Linked DNA regions of Homo sapiens: region 2 is linked to region 1. Evidence: fine-mapped expression QTL. A gene starts in region 1. The other region holds a variant in brackets. All regions are shown on one strand. Distances are between the middles of the regions.

Region 1 (2,917 bases):
CCTCCACTTCCCTCCTCCTCCCCCCACCATAGCTACCCTTTTAAGTCAGCCCTGGGAGGATAAACTTAAAGAAGAGGCCTGCATAGGCCCTGGAATGAACTCAGGACATGTGGGCACATACTTTTGGGGTCCCATGTGCCTGGAGGCGAGGCACGGGGCACATCATCTTGGCCCTGTGATCTCTTACTCTGTGGGAAAGAGTGCGGGGGACAGCCAGAGATGGGCCTCTCAAGCACACAGTCCAGGGCAGGCGGCCCTGGCTTCTCAGCTCTCAGGACAGAAAAGGTCCTGGAAAGGACAAAAGAGAGAGCCAGGCCCAACCAAGAGAAGTAGAAGTGGAAGTAGCCCAGGTGTGTGGGCAAGCATGCTAGCACTCATCTCTGGAAGTGGGTTTCAGGATGTAAGGCAAGCAAACTCAGTGTGGAGTAGAAAGTGGTTGGTTGTATCACCTGTGAGCAAAAGCCATGGTGTGCAAATGACAACAGTCAATGTGATGTTATGCTGCTGCCCTGGACAAATGCAGTCCTCTTTTCCATCTCAGTGATGCTGTCATCACCCCCCTGATTGCACACACAGGATACCTGGGAGTCATTCTTGGTGCCTGTTTCTTACCTCCCATTATCCACCAGCAAGTCTTATCAATTCTACTTTTTGGATCTATCTCCAATCCAGTTCCCTCTCTCTCATCCAATCTCCCTTCATCTCTTTCCTAACTTCTGTGCTAGTTTCCTAACTGAACTTCCTGATGCCTCTTGCCTCTCCTGTCTATTCTCATAGCAATCAGAATGATCTTAGTAAAACAGAGCTGACCATGACATGCCCCAGCTTAAGACCCTTGATGAACCTCCTACTGCCCTCAAAATAAAGTCCAAATTCCCTATTGTGGCCTACCAACCCACTTATGATCTGGCCCTAACCTATCAGTGTCATTCCTCCACCCTCACACTCTTTAAGTTCCACTCCTCCTGAATTTCATTCCGTCCTTCCCACATTTTTAAATATTTTGTAAAGATGGGGTCTCCCTATGTTGCCCAGGCTGGTCTCAAACTCCTGGCTTCAAGTGATCCTCGTGCCTCAGCCTCCCAAAGTGTTGGGATTACAGGTGTGAGCCACCACACACACGCTCTTATTTAGGTACTTTTTTGTTTTTTGTCATTCTACTAACTGTAGTACTGCATTGTGGTTTTAATTTCCACTTCTTTGATGACTAATGATGTTCAGTCTACTCCTTCTTTGAAATCTCTGCTTGGTTTTCATTTGTTCCAAGAAGTAATCGCTCCTTCTACAGACTAAGTTCCTGTCCTCCTTTGTAGTTCCATGACAACCAATATTTATCTCCACCTTGGCCTTAACCCACTAAAGTACAGTTGTTTTACTTTTACCTCCACACCCACCGCCATCATCACAAACACACACATACACGACTGTGCACTTCCTGAAGGCAGAAGCAGCATCATACTTCTTTGGTATCTTCAGCAATCAGCACAGACCTGAAACACAATCTTTACACAATAAATATGATGAGTGAATGAACAGTTGCTTAACAAATTAAAGAATGGATGAAGGTAGGTAGTTAGGTACAAGGTTTTGCAGATAGGCCTGGCTGTGTCAATTAAACCTTTCTTCATGGGTCCTCACACTTAGTAAGCTCACTTTTAAAAGGACAATGCTGAAGACACAAATGTTTACAATGACCACAGCGATGACGGGATCCGAGAGAAAGGCAAGGCGGAAGGGGTGAGGCCGGAAGCCGAAGTGCCGCAGGGAGTTAGCGGCGTCTCGGTTGCCATGGAGACCAGGAGCTCCAAAACGCGGAGGTCTTTAGCGTCCCGGACCAACGAGTGCCAGGGGACAATGTGGGCGCCAACTTCGCCACCAGCCGGGTCCAGCAGCCCCAGCCAGCCCACCTGGAAGTCCTCCTTGTATTCCTCCCTCGCCTACTCTGAGGCCTTCCACTACAGCTTCGCAGCCCGGCCCCGCCGCCTCACGCAGCTTGCGCTGGCGCAGCGTCCCGAGCCTCAGCTGCTTCGTCTGCGCCCCTCCTCGCTGCGCACCCAAGATATCTCGCACTTGCTCACCGGCGTCTTCCGCAACTTGTACTCAGCCGAGGTCATCGGCGACGAAGTGAGCGCAAGCTTGATCAAGGCCCGCGGCAGCGAGAATGAGCGCCACGAGGAGTTCGTGGACCAGCTGCAGCAGGTAACGTGGCGGTGGCGTCGCGTCTGCGGACGGTGCCGGGGTCTCAGCGCTCGGCACGCGTCAGCACCTGCCAGGTGCCAGGCGCTGTTCCAGGATCTGGGGCTGCAGTTGAGAAACAGCCCATCATGCCGAAGTGGGCCCGACATTCTAGTGGAAGGACGCTCTATCCATACACACACATGCGCAAATACCACACATACCACACAACGTGCGGCATATATCTGTAGCACCTGTCTATATTTCTCTAGACACATACGTTATATATTGCATATATCAATGAACGACTGCGGCAGACCGCTGAATAGTTGTTCCATGGAGAGGATAAAGCCAAAAGTCACCCGGCTTTGGGGTGCCTTTGTATCACAAACCACAATCTTGACTGGGCCATTCATGCGCAGATTTTAGGAAGCGTGTCTAGCCTCTAGAACAGCAACTCTGCTTCCTCATCTGTACAAGGAGAAAACCAGCTGACTCGCGGCCTCTGTGCTGAGTCGGCCTCTGCTGGCCACACTACTGAAGACTCCCTTAAACTTGTGGGCACTCCTCCCATACCCGATCCTTTACCCCGGTGTGCTTCCTGCCTCTCAGATCTTCTTCTTCTCCTTTCTGTTCTGTCCTCTACCTGCCCCTTAAGTGACATGCATCCCACGTCGTTAGCTTCAGTCATTCCTTCACTTAACACATTTGTTGAATGTCTGCTGGGTGTCATACTCTGTTC
Region 2 (2,917 bases), 62 kb after region 1:
CCCCATCCTGCTTCTCCCCACATTCCAGTCCCCTGCACTTCTAGGGATTTCCTGGGATTTTCCAGAGCACAGTTAGAAGCTTACAGACCTCAGCCAGCCTCCTCATTTGATAGAGGAGAGACTGGAAGGGGCAGGGCTTCCCCAAGGTCATACGGCTGATGGGTAGCGGCATCACATCTGATCCCTCTTGTCTAGTTTTCAGTCTGTGGTGTTCTCCCACTGTGAAGAATAACTATGTTTTATAATGGAAATAATTGCCAATGTTATAGTATTGTAAGATAATTCCCTCTCTACAGTTCTCTGCACTCTATTCTTTTGAGCTCTCAAAAATAATGTTGGGATTTGGGGTTTGTTAGATGGTCTCAGATTAGGGGACGCAGAGCTGCTGAAACCCAACCCTAGACTACAGCCACCCCCAGAGCTCCAAGGGAGATGCACATGAGCAACAAAGACAAAATAAAGCAAAGTGGCTCCTTACAGGGACAAGTGTCCTCTCTCAGTCAGGGCAGGAAGAATGGAATGTAAAGAGCCCTCCCCAGATGGGGACACTTTTCTTCCTGCTCTTTCCCTTCCCCTCTCCCTTTGTGTGTGTGCCTGGCATGGGAGGAGGAGCAGACCGGGGGCGGGGTGGGGGTGGGGGCGGGTAAATGAGGCTGAGCCTGCAGTAGGGGACAGAAGGAAGGGGTGGGGGAAAGACCACGTGGGTGCAAAGGAGAAATCTGGCCACAATAGACTCTCCCCTCCCCTAATCTAGTGACCTGGTGGCTTTCCTCAGTTGAAGCTGCTCAGAGGGCTACCCCCCTAGTTTGGCTCACCAGCTCTCCTCTGGCTCCCCAGCTCTCCCCATTTTCCCTGGAGCACCTCCCTCCGCCTTCTATCTCTCAGATCTGGGCCAGGGCATGGGGCCCTCTGACTTATGTATTCCTTTACTTGGAGACTCAGTTTCTATGCTCTTAATCCTGAGACTCTTGTGGCTGTGGTCCCCCACCTGCTTGCCTGTTTCTGGATCCCAGATGGCTCTTGGAAGAGCTGGGGCAGCTTAGGAGTGACTTTGGTTAGGCATGGCCAGCCCCCAGTTCCTCTGCAATTCCAAGTGTCCTCAGTGCTCATCCTCCTGAGTGTTCTCCGGGGCAGGTGTCTCCCTTCGACATTGAGCCTTCGAGTGGCCAGCTTCACTCTCTGGGGGAGTGCAGGGTGGACATCACCTTGGAGGCCCTGCACTGCCAGCATCTGGAGACCGTCCTGGAGCTGGAGGTGGAAAATGGTGCCTGGAGGTAAGGGTGCCGTGGGAAGAGCCACTACAACAAACTATGCATATTCGTGATGTATTTATCTATATTATATATTTATCTAGAGATGTTCTGGATTTAAAACTATTGAATCCAGAAAATTAGTATTCTATAAAATTTGTAAATTACAGAAAAGAAACTCAAAATGACGCATAATCCATTCCCTAGGGATGATCCACTGATAATATTATGTATATATCTTTCTAGGGTGTGTGTATTAAAGAGATGTAAATTAGTATAACTACTTTCGAAACTACGTTAGCATCAGCTAGTGTTTGCCCTTCTGAGTATACTCCCAGGGAAATCCTTATACATGCACAGTGGGAGATGTGTGCTCATGTTGGAATGCTCAGACTGGACTGTTCCTACAGGAAAAACTAGAAAAAACCACTGTCTGTCAACAGGAGAATGGACATTTAAAAAGTGTGACATATTTAAATAAGCACATACCATTGTATTCTGGGAGGAACATGCTAGAGGTTTCAAAGGTATT[G/A]GTAGTATTCCTTTTTTTCTTCTTCATTCTCCCTCCGCTCCCCCACTTCCCTCCTTTTCTTTCTTTCTAGTGGAAAACTTCTCATATATATAAAAACAGAAAGAATAGTATAATAAACCTCCACATACTCTTTCCTCCCTTCAATAATTGTCAACTCACTGCAAGTACTGTTTCATCCATATCCCCTATCTCCTTCTCCCCACTCCTTCCCAAATTATTTTCAAATAAAATATTCATTTTCCTGCTGGGCATGGTGGCTCACGCCTGTAATCCCAGCACTTTGGGAGGCCGAGGCAGGCAAATCACGAGGTCAGGAGTTCGAGATCAGCCTGGCAACATGGTGAAACCCCGTCTTTACTAAAAATACAAAAATTAGCCAGGTATGGTGGTGCTCGCCTGTAGTCCCAGCTACTTAGGAGGCTGAGGCAGAAGAATCACTTGAATCCTGGAGGCAGAGGTTGCAGTGAATGAATATATATATATATTCATTTTCTTAAGCTGGCTGGTGATAATATTTTGTTTCTAAAGTTGTGTGGAGGTAGTACATAGATGTTGTTTTATTATTCGTTAAACTATATATATGTTTAAACTGTATATATGTTTTATACTCATTTTTGCATATATTTGGTGTTTCATTGTAAAAACATTTAAATGCTCATTTAAATCTCTGTGGATGCTCTTGAATTATCCTCCAAAAAGACTGTGTCATTTTATACTTCTGCCTACAGTGTGTGAGACTAGCCATTACCCCACACTTTCACCATGACAAATGTTGTTGGACTTTGTATACTTGACCATCTGACAGTTGTTCAAATGTCCCCTCCTGTGATAACAAATACAGGTCTAGGTATGAGTCTTTGCATTGGTCCTTCAGGGCAATTTGCGGGCATTAGATGTGAAGGCTAAGTCTGCCTGCAGCTCAGGGGAAGGGCTTTCTATTAAGTCTGTGCTTATTTCCTTTCCTTTTCTGTCTCTGTTCTTTCTCCTGAAAGGACCTTGTATTATCAGAATGTTTACAGTAGCAGGTGATGGAAACACAGACATTACCAACTTAGGCAAAAAAGAGGAAGCATTGGCTCACGTAACTGGGCATTCCCACCTTGCTGAATCCAAGGGCCCAACACTTTTCCCTTTG

What was found.
Region 2: its variant is fine-mapped to the expression of DLEC1 in subcutaneous fat (GTEx, PIP 0.96).

Annotation. Positions count from the first base shown.
Region 1 is chr3:38,037,438-38,040,354 of GRCh38, forward strand. It overlaps DLEC1 (DLEC1 cilia and flagella associated protein), which reads left to right and starts at 1,771. Exons shown (of 37, transcript NM_007335.4): 1 at 1,771-2,199. The coding sequence starts at 1,789. RefSeq lists enhancers at 1,836-2,045, 2,336-2,565.
Region 2 is chr3:38,099,152-38,102,068 of GRCh38, forward strand. DLEC1 (DLEC1 cilia and flagella associated protein) reads left to right here. Exons shown (of 37, transcript NM_007335.4): 19 at 1,135-1,274. Among named protein-coding and RNA genes, the nearest start is that of ACAA1, 37 kb to the right of the region's middle. The variant G/A (reference allele first, on the strand shown) is at 1,783.